3 linked regions of the Homo sapiens genome follow. The protein of the gene in region 3 purifies or fractionates together with the protein of the main gene of each other region. This does not show direct contact. Each region holds a gene or a part of one and is shown on either strand. Other genes may lie near its edges. The genes, in order: SH3PXD2B, LANCL2 and LZTFL1.

The links.
Region 1: the proteins of LZTFL1 (region 3) and SH3PXD2B fractionate together in Homo sapiens (co-fractionation; one large-scale study listed by BioGRID). This does not show direct contact.
Region 2: the proteins of LZTFL1 (region 3) and LANCL2 fractionate together in Homo sapiens (co-fractionation; one large-scale study listed by BioGRID). This does not show direct contact.

The regions. Positions count from the first base shown.
Region 1 is NC_000005.10:172,349,908-172,353,561, forward strand, and holds part of SH3PXD2B (SH3 and PX domain-containing protein 2B), read right to left. Parts: intron 683-3,654; coding exon 456-682; intron 1-455. UniProt on the Homo sapiens protein: Adapter protein involved in invadopodia and podosome formation and extracellular matrix degradation. Binds matrix metalloproteinases (ADAMs), NADPH oxidases (NOXs) and phosphoinositides.
Region 2 is NC_000007.14:55,368,217-55,371,870, reverse strand, and holds part of LANCL2 (lanC-like protein 2), read right to left. Parts: intron 1-3,654. UniProt on the Homo sapiens protein: Necessary for abscisic acid (ABA) binding on the cell membrane and activation of the ABA signaling pathway in granulocytes.
Region 3 is NC_000003.12:45,831,984-45,835,637, forward strand, and holds part of LZTFL1 (leucine zipper transcription factor-like protein 1), read right to left. Parts: coding exon 3,607-3,654; intron 2,316-3,606; coding exon 2,255-2,315; intron 1,139-2,254; coding exon 1,067-1,138; intron 1-1,066. UniProt on the Homo sapiens protein: Regulates ciliary localization of the BBSome complex. Together with the BBSome complex, controls SMO ciliary trafficking and contributes to the sonic hedgehog (SHH) pathway regulation. May play a role in neurite outgrowth. May have tumor suppressor function.

The sequences.
Region 1 (3,654 bases), on a different chromosome or scaffold from region 3:
TGCAATGGTGCATCTTGGCTCACTGCAACCTCTGCCTCCCGGGTTCAAGCGATTCTCCTATCTCAGCCTCCCAAGTAGCTGGGATTTCAGGCAGCTGCCACCACGCCTGGCTAATTTTTGTATTTTTAGTAGAGACGGGGTTTCACCATGTTGGCCAGGCTGGTCTTGAACTCCTGACCTCAGGTGATCGGCCTGCCTCGGCCTCCCAAAGTGCTGGGATTACAGGTGTGAGCCACTGTGCCCGGCCAGCAATGCCTCTTGACTCAGATTCTGCAATTCACGGGCTGAATGATCTGGAATAAGTTACCCGGGGTTTCTGGGCCTCTGTTTTCTTATCTGGAGGATGGGGGAGCAGCTGGGCTGCTGTGAGGATGAGGGACGATGTGAGACGCCTTGAGCACAGAGCTGGCACACAGGGGCCCTGATTATCAGGAGCTTGGGCGGGTGTCACTCACTCTGCTTGGCGTCACCGTCGGGCACCGGGCGGCCTTCAAACCGCCCGTCCCTCTGGCTGCTGAGCAGCTCCTTCTCCCTGCCCACCGCGTTCTGCTGCCGGGAAACACCATCCAAGTCAAGGGCACCCGGGTGGGAGGGTGAGCCAGGGCCTGGCTTCGGGGGCAAGGGCTCCCCACTGTTCTTCTTTAGGTAGGAGGCGGGGGCCCAGCCTTCTTTGCCCTGGTACCTGTGAAGAGGAGGAAGGATGCTGTCAAACTGCTCCGCCAGGCCCAAGGGAAGAAGCCTTGCTCCTACTGGGAATCACATGACAGGTCCCAGGGAGCAGGAACGACGGGTTGTGACTGCCCAGGGCAAGAGGTTGGCACACACTGTGCATTTCCTCTTGATGATGCCTAAGCCCTGAGCTTGGTATTTTCAAGGCCTTTCCAACCCGGCCTCTACTTGCCCCTCTTACAGCACCCACCATGTCCCACCCAGCCAGCAGGGCACCAGCCTGGGCTCTGAATCTCTGTGCTTTGCTGCCTCTTCCCAGCAGCCCCAGCTCTGGGGCCAAAGCCTGGCATAGACAGATGGAGATCTGTTCACGCTGATGAACGTGGAGATTAAACATGCTTTCATATGGGATTAGCAGGTTGAGGGCTGGGTCCAGGGCTCGCCAAGTGGCAGCTGGCCATCACTAAACCGCAGAGTGATCGAGACCCTGACAGAGCAGCTCAGTGTCCTCCCAAAAGGGACTTCAATGAGTGTCATCATCTCTTAATCCTCTGCAGGAGACATTCAGTTTTTGAGATAGGGTCTCCCTGTCACCCAGGCCAGAGTGCAGTGGTTCGATCATAGCTCACTGCAGCCTTGAACTCCTGGGCTCAAGCGATTCTCCCAACTCAGTCTCCTACGTAGCTGGAATTACAGGTACACACCACCATGCCCAGCTATTTATTATTTCTTGTAGAGATGGGGTGTTGCTATGTTGCTCAGGCTGGTCTTGAGCTCCTAGACTCAAGTGATCTTCCTGTCTCGGCCTCCCAAAGTGTTGGGATTACAGGTGTGAGCCACCACGCTTGGCCAGAATTCAGTTTAACAGCAATGACCAGAGGGGCCAATCTAGACCAGGGGTGTGCTGCAGTCAGTCACACCAGCTGTGACAGCCAGTTGGGCACATCTCTCCCAATCTCTACATTTAGTGACATCACACTGATAGCTTGAAATTGACCATGGTGGCAGTATTTGCACCATGGCAACTGGCAAACACTGTAACTCAGAGTATTTTTCCTTGGAGAGCTGGTTGTTAAACATTTACCAGAACCCAAAAAAACAGGTGGCCAGACCTTTGGGGAAAGTTGAACAGACCCAATGGCAGGGCTGAATCTCTTGTCAAGAATTAATTTAAGAACTAAATAGCATTGGGTTTTAATGCAAAAAAAAAAAGGTCTCTCTTGACTGGAAGCAAATTTAAAAGGAGGTAGAAATCTGCAGTTTAGTGTCTATCAATCTTAAAATATGCTCTGAGAGGGAATATCCTAATTAGAAAGTGCCAGGCTGTATATAACCCACACGCTCAGTTTGACATAGTTCATTGTTTGGGGACACAGAGCCATAAGATGGGAGGCGATGTGCAGTGCTGACTGGGCTCTGGGGTGAGAAGGGAATGGGCTGAAATCCTGACTGTCACTTTCTAGCATCAGTCAGATCTTGAGATGACTGCAGCCCTTACTGACATCCTAACTATAACCTCGGGAGAGACCTTGAGTCTAATTAAGCCACTGCTGAATTCCAGAGCCACTAACTTTTGGGACAATTTATTATGCAGCAAGATAACATACTATTCAATATATGTTTGTTATCCTTTTTTAAAAAGTTTAAAAAAACTAATGTCTTTAAATTTTAGAGACAGGGTCTTGTTGTGCTGCCTAGGCTGGAGTGGCACCATCATAGCTCATCGCAGCCTCAAACTCTTGGGCTCGAGTGATCCTCCTGCCTCAGCCTCCTGGGTAGCTGGGACTACAGGCGTGCATCACCATGCCTGGCTAATTTAAAAGATTTTTATGTAGAGATGGGATCATGCTATGTTGCCCGGGCTGGTCTTGAATTCCTGGCCTCAAGTGATCCTCCTGCCTTACCTCCTCAAGTACTGGGATTACAGGCATGAGCCACCGTGCCAGGCCCATGCCTGCTATTTGATATGGTTTGGCTGTGTCCCCATCGACATCTTGACTTGAATTGTATCTCCCAGAATTCCCACATGTTGTGGGAGGGACTCAGGCGGAGGTAACTGAATCATGGGGGCCAGTCTTTCCCATGCTATTCTCGTGATAGTGAATAAGTCTCACAAGATCTGATGGATTTATCAGGGGTTTCCACTTTTGCTTCTTCCTCATTTTCTCTTGCCGATGCTATGTAAGAAATGCTTTTCACCTCCCGCCATGATTCTGAGGCCTCCCCAGCCATGTGGAACTGTAAATCCAGTTAAACCTCTTTTTCTTCCCAGTCTGGGGTATATCTTTATCGGCAGCATGAAAATAGACTAATACACTATTACTATCATTATCCGTTTTCAAATTTAGGTTCTGAGATCTCCCTCAGGAAGCCTTCCTGACCCCCAGGCTGAGGAGCCCCTCTTCTGTGTACCAAAGTCCCCATGCATCCCTCCAACATGGCCAACCCTCTGCTCTATCACCGTTTATGAGTTTGTCTTCTGTACCAGGTGGTGTGAGCTATTGTATCTTGCTCACTGTTGACTCCTCAGCTCCCAGAACAGGGCTGGGCCCAACAGAGATTCTTGGTGTGCGTTTGTTGAATGAATGAATGAATGCAGTGCTACATGCTCAGCCTCCTGGAAATGGCCCGAATGTCCCGCCACACATCACAGCGCAGACACTAGATTGCAGGGACCTCGGCTTCCTCTCTTGCCCTAATTTCCCATGGTCACATCCTGCCTATTGGGGGTGATCAAGGAGGGGTTCCCAGGACTTTCATTACTAAAACCAGGCAAGGCAGGACGAGCTGGCCACCCTGCCTGCCTGGGAGGCTCTGATATCATCACATAGGTGAAAGGGCTGTGAAAGGTGTTTGGAATGCAGACGCCCTGCTTTTACCATTGGACTTTGAGAGACGAGGGCAGATTATCAGCCTAGGACGAATTACAGTCCATGAGTGTTTATGCACCATCTTGTTCTCAGAATGGGGCGGGAGGGGGCTGTC
Region 2 (3,654 bases), on a different chromosome or scaffold from region 3:
CTCTGGGTATTAGGGTAGTACTGATTTCCTTATGCTTCCATGATATATTATGAGGTTAAACAAATTTTAAAGCTTCAAAACAAAAATATGGAAAATTAAATAATTATAAACTGAAGCATTTCCAATAGCTTAAGATTGTATCAAATTACAGACAAGTTTTCCTGATTTTTTTCTGTGGAAAAAGTTGTAAAGTCCTTTGGATTGACCAGAAACTATAAAACTCCTACAAGAGAACATGGGGAAAAGCTCCTGGACACCGGCCATAGCAATAATTTTTTGGTATGACACCAAAAGCTCATGGCACAAAAGCAGAAATAAACAAATATTACTATATCAAATTAAAAAGCTTCTGCACAGCAAAGGAAACAATTCTTAAAATGAAACAGCAGCATATGAGCTGGGAAAAATTCCTTGAGCCCAGAAGTTTGAGACCAGCCTGGGCAACATGGTAAAACCCTGTCTCTACAAAAAATACAAAAACTAGTTGGGCATGGTGGTACCTGTCTGTGGTCCCAGCTACTCAGGCAGCTGTGGTGGGAGGATAATTTGAGCTCGGGAGGGAGCCACAATCATGCCACTGCATTCCAGCCTACAACAGAGTGAGACCCTGTCTCGAAAAAAAACAAAACAAAACCCAAAACTATACAGAGATAGAGAACAAAACAGTTATTACCGGAGGCAGTGGGTTGAAGGAAGGAGAGGAAATGGTCAGAGGATACAAAATGGAAGATATGCAGGACAAACAAGTCTAGAGCTCTAAGGCACAACATGAAAACTACAGGTAATAAAAATGCACTGGATGTGGGATTCACGCTAAGTGAATAGATTTCAGCAGCTCTGGCCACAGAAAAAACAATGGGTAATTATGTGACATTGGGAATATATTAATTTGCCTCTCTATAGAAACCATTTTACTACCTATATGTATCACATAACACCATGTGGTATACCTTAAATATACAATTTTAAATTTCATTTTAAAAGAATCCTTCCAATCCATCAAGTCCTTCAGCATCAACTCCAATCACTGTCTTCGGCCTCAATACTCCCCAGTGCCATTCACGCTCCCTCTTCTCCAGTCATGCCGTACTCCTTGATATTCTCATAATGTGGTATCCCTTAAGTCCTTGCTCATGGAGTTCCCTAACTGAGCCTAGAAAACCCCCACTTAATCTTTCAAGGACCATGAAAGTATCATTTTAGTCTAAAAAGCCTTCCCTGATGCGAATGGGCAGAATTAACACGTCTTCTTTCTTCTCTTGTGCCCCCAAGATATTCTTTACATATTGTCACTTACTGTAATACTCATTGCAGGGTTCTGGAGGCTACACCTAGCAATGGTGCAGTATCACAGCAATTTCTCTCCCAACCAATGAGGTATGGCAATGACCTCTCTGACAAGTTCAAGATTTCAGCCCTGGCTGAGGACTCTACAGTTCATGGTATTTATGCTCCTGTATAACCCCTCCACTTGAGCGTGGGCTGGATTTACTGTCTTGCTTCTAATAGAATACAATATGGCAGGTGTGATGGTATGTCACTTCTGAGATTACATAATAAATACAATGACTGCAGCTTCCATCTTGGGTGCTCTTGCATACTTTTCTCTTTGATCACTCAGTCTCAGGGAAGACAGCCACTATGTCATGAGGCAGCCCTAAGGAGCAGCCCATGTGGTTAGACACTGAAGCCTCCAGAAAACACATAGCAAGGCCGACTAACCACCATGTGAATGAGCCTGGAGCAGATTCTCTCTCCCAGTTAAGCCTCAAAATGACAGAAGCCCTGGTTCAGAGCTTGAGTGCAGCTTCTCCAGAGACCGTGAGCCAGAACCACCCAGCTAACCTGCAGCTGGATTCCTGACTCTCAGACACTGCATGAGATCGTAAGTGTTTATAAAGATGCTAAGTGTTGGGATAATTATTACACAGCAACAGAGCTAATCACAGGGGCCTTTACTCGAGTGCCCTCTCAGCCCTAGGGGTGGGGCTGCTCCTTCTGTCTGCTATTCCTACACTCTTCAGAGTTCTCTTTCCTTCTCATGAGACAATCTCTTGTTACTCCAGTCTCACAGTTCATAACAATTCTTTAAGTTAAACTTTCCCTATTAAACTCTGCATGGTACCCATCTCCTGGTTGGACTTGAACATCAGTTGAAGCTGCTGCTGCTGCTGGTCAAAGACATTAATCATGATTCAGCTCCTAGAGCTGGGCTCAATTCCCCTTAAGTCCACGGCCACAACAAAATCAAGTAAAAAGGAGGAAATGGCTGTTAGATGAGTAACTAAGAGTGTCTGCGTCACAGGCTTTCCATAATTAAAAACAACTGCTACTACACTGGTTCACTGCTTTTCATAATATTGGCCCAATATTGTAAAAAATGTTATAAATACCAATTTATGGAAATATGGCCCAGAGAAGCCGACTTGAGTGGTTTTAGAATCAGAGGATAATTTTATTGACTGATCACACCACATACCTAGGCAGCCAAACTAAAATGAGATAGAGTGAATGACTTAAAGAATACTTAGTAATAAAATGTTATTGTGTTGGTAGATTTTTGTAATCATTACTCGGTAACATCATGGAGAGAAAATTATTCAATGCTTAACTTACAAATTAACAAGTTACCCTAGGGATACCACAAAGTTCAACAAACTGGGTGGCTTAAAACCACATAAATTTATTTTCTCATAGTTCTGGAGCCTACAGCCCCAAAATCAACGTATCAACAGGGCCATGCTCTCTGTCAAACTTACAGAGGAGAATCCTTCCTTGCCTCTCCTAGTTTCTGGTGTTGGCTGGCAATTCCAATCTCTGCCTCCATCATCACATGGCCATCTTCTTTCTCCCTATGTCTCTTTCTTCTCTTTTACAATTCTTTTTAAAAAAGAGACAGGGTCTCACTATGTTGCCCAGGCTAGTCTTGAACTCCTGCCCTCAAGTGATCCTCCTGCCTCAACCTCCCAAAGTGCTGGTATTACAGGCATGAGCCATCATACCTGCTTCTCTTTTCTTCATATAAGAACACCAGTCATATTGGATTAGGGGCCCATCATATTCCAGTATTACATCATCTTAATTACATCTGCCATGACCTTATTTCCAAATGTCACATTCTGAGGTTCCAATGGGTTAGGACTTCAACCTTCAATACCTTTTTTTCTGGTGGGGGACACAATTCAACCCATAACACCCTCATTTTCATGAAATTTCATGTCTATCAAAAACAGTGCATAGTGTGATATCCTCAAATTGCATTCTTAACAGATTTTTAAAACCAAAAATTTAATGTCAATCATAAAAAATATTAATAGGGAAGACAGTGTTCAACTCATATTCATTTTATCTGATGACTTTCCAATAACCAAGAAGCAATCTTTCCACCTTTTAAAATCACTATCCATCTCTCCCTTCAACGTGCTCTCATTTTCATATTCAAGAATAATATGATGTCCATTTCTTTCTTTAGCATATACTCACAACCACTGGCATAGGTCCCCACCCCAACTTACATTTCATTGCAGAGATATCACAAGCCCCATTAGTTACTTGTAGTCTAATTTTCTTTTCAACATAAATCAGGTATATAACTGAGGTCAAAAATCACATTTATCCAGATACAAAGGCTAAAAAGAAAAATACCCAATTTCA
Region 3 (3,654 bases):
CCAGCACTTTGGAAGGCCGAGGCGGGCGTATCACAAGATCAGGAGATCAAGACCAACCTGGCTAACATGGTGAAACCCCATCTCTACTAAAAATACAAAAAATTAGCCGGGCGTGGTGGCAGGCGCTACTCGGAGGCTGAGGCAGGAGAATGGCGTGAACCCGGGAGGTGGAGCTTGGAGTGAGCCTAGATCACGCCACCGCACTCCAGCCTGGGCGACAGAGCAAGACTCTGTCTCAAAAAAACAAACCAACAAACAACAATAAAAAACCCAAACTATTACATTTTTGAGGGCAAGGGAGCAGGTATTACACTGCTTTTTATTTCTAACAACATCTAGCATAATGTTGAGAATACAAGGGTCATGAAAAATAGCTGAAATCTGAAATGCTTCAACATCAGAAACTTTCTGAGTGCTGACATGATGCTCAAAGAAACTGCTCATTGGAGCATTTCAGATTTCAGATTTTTGGATTTGGGATGCTCAACTGGGGTCTGTATAATGCAAATATTCAAAAATCTGAAATCCAAAACACTTCTAGTCCCAAGGATAAGGGATACTCAACCTGTGCTGATAAATAATTTTTTTTTTTTTTTGAGATGGAGTCTCGCTCTGTCGCCCAGGCTAGAGTGCAGTGGCGTGATCTCAGCTCACTGCAACCTCTACCTCCCGGGTTCAAGCAATTCTCCTGCCTCAGCCTCCCGAGTAGCTCTGACTATAGGCACGTACCACCACACCCGGCTAATTGATAAATAATTTTTATAAACTTAAAAACCCTTCTCCTTGTTACCGCAGATCACAAACTTTAAATGTCCATCAATAAACGCTGTCCAAAATTTCATGCTCTTCACTTTACCTTGAAAAGGTGTGATCAGGAGCTACTTCAGGCTCTCTAGAAGGTTAAGTATGCCCTCTTCTGGCCCATGGGGTACCATCAAGTAAAACTACTGCAATGGACTAATTATCCTCAGAGGACCTGAAACAAACCTTCCACTTCTGTTTCTCCACCCTAGGCAATGACAGGACAGAATGAGAGACTTTCCGTTTCTCAAAATAATAATATTACCTTGTTTAGGAGTTCTGCTGTTCCACCTTCATTAAGTGGAGCAAGTTTTGGCTTTGTGACATCTAAGATGGGCTGAAACAAAATAAAGAAACCAAACTGAAATCACCACAGAATAAAGCATGTATAATCATTGAACACTTGCACTTTGCAAGTGGAAGATACTATATATAAACATATTCACTGCGATGTCAGTTCCACAGGTGTGGAGATTTCTGTTGGTTTCATCCTTTGTTACTCCCAGTGCCTAGGATATGCCTGTCCTACAGTGCCCCATACATGTTAGAGACAAAAATAAAACCTATCTTCCCTGTATCTTTTAAAAATATATAGATAGAAGGAAAATGAGGGAAGAAAGGAGGGACGGAAGGAGCTCAAAGCCAGATCTGATATAGAGCCTAGCATCTAGCAACTAGAATTTTAGCCTGTGGGAGCTGAAACAGTGATTTCTACATGAACCTTAGACTCTGTGAAAAACAATAATATTGATGAAGATCTAGGCAAGTATAATACAGATAAACAATAACTTGGCACAAATAATATAGTAGTTTAGTAATATATATTAAAAATAAAATAATTCATGCCCTCTGATCCAGAAATTTCTTAGCCATAAATATGACCCAAAGGAATAACTGGAAAGTATTTTGCATGTGTATGTACATAGATTCATCTCAGCAGTATTTATCCAACAATGGAGTATTTACGGTGTGCCCGTGAAGTGGAATGGTAAGTGGCCACTCCAATTAATGAGAATGATTAGAAAGAGAGGTAGATAACTACTAGTATTGTCTCCATTTGTCAGATGAGTAAAATGAAGCTCAGCTACCTCAGATAACCTGCTCAAGGTAACACAGCCAGGAAGTGACAGAGCCAGGATGTATACCCAGGTGTGGCTGACCCTACAGCCTGCGCTCTGAATCTTCTGAGTAGAGTATTTATGAGTGGGATTGAGACTGAACTTAGGGATCATGTGTATGTGTAAGCCATCACAGACAAAAGCAGTTTTTCACAGTTACTTCCAAAACATTTTTTCTTTTGCCTGAAAATATGATAGACAATTTCTGAATTTTACTCTTGAATTGAATGCTTTTCCTTAAGAGTTCTCAGTTTTGATCTCTGAATTCTTTGAGCAACTTGAGGATTTTAAATACTGGCTATTAAGATATGGATTTAGAATGACCAAAAAGTTACCTTTTTGTTTGAAGATGTAATCTCTGCTTTTTCAAATTCTGCAACTTGTTCTAATAATTCTCTTGAAGAAGAAAGCAAAGATAAAAATTATTCATTTAAAATAGATTTATATCACACGCAAGAAGAGTAAAATCACTGGTACCAACCCATTACATGCCAGAGAGAACAGAGCAAGATGGACCAAACTTCACCATATCAAAAATGTTAGTTGCAAATGGTTGAGAACCTAAACCACATGGACTCAAATGTAATCATCCACAGTACCTGGCATTTTGTATCTACTAGGTATGCAATATCTACTGCTAGAAATAAACCATAATGTTAATACAAATATGAGGAAAATTTATAGTCAACTTTGTATTCTTGAGGTGCTATGAGGAGACTGTTTTATTACATAATGTGTATTGTTAGCTAGTAGGTGTTCAAAAAAGATTCTTAATAAAGTAGTCTCAGAAAAATGAAAATAGTCCATAGTATCTACTGAAAAAGAGTACCACAAATTCCTAGGAAAGACAGATAGTGGGGGTGTGCCATCTGAAGATTTGCAAAGGCCAATGAGAAGTGACTACACACAAGCTTAGAGTGTTAACAGCAGTCAGCTTCTAAGCTTCTTAAAGCACCACCTTCTCAGAGTTTTCTCACCAGTCATCTACTGACAGTGGCAGAAGTTCAATGATTTTCCTCCCCAGCTCATAGGTTGTCCTCAGCGTTGTTCAACACTCTGCATGTGAACTGATGTGCTGTGACTGTGCTTAGAGTAGTTCACGGGGCTTGGCGGTCAGTCCTTCCTGATTTCTGGCATGCTTTTTCTTAAAATGAGTTTCAACTTCACCAATTTTACCATATTTTTTGAATTTGAGCTCTTAGATGTCCATATTATAAGCTTTTTTGTATATTTCCTATTTCAAAGTTAATAAATGTATACTTTTAAATTCCATTATTTAGAAAACTTCCAATGCTACTGGATTGAATTGATGGTATTTATTATATTTGAATTGACTTTTCAACTGTCTCATAATCTCTATTTCTTAGTTGACCAATCTATAAAGACTGATGGTAATACTGACCAAGCTAACAAAAATGCTGTAAGAAATAATTAATGATAGCCTGAAAAGCAATTTCATAAATCTCGATGGCCTTTGTAATACCTAGGAACAGTAGAAACAGAGAACTTTTAAAAGGGTGCTTAGTGGTACCCAAGAGATCACTCAGTGACTCAATGCTTTGCTGTTACCCTACCCAAATTTCCTCACACACTAGCCCCAAGAAAATATGCAGCCAAAGATGTTCACTAACTTTTAAGATTATGCTTGGGCCATTATTGTCACAGTTGCAAGTTCAAATTTTATTACCGGTTTTCAAGTTCAGAGATGTCTGTCTGTAGCTTAAGATACCACTTC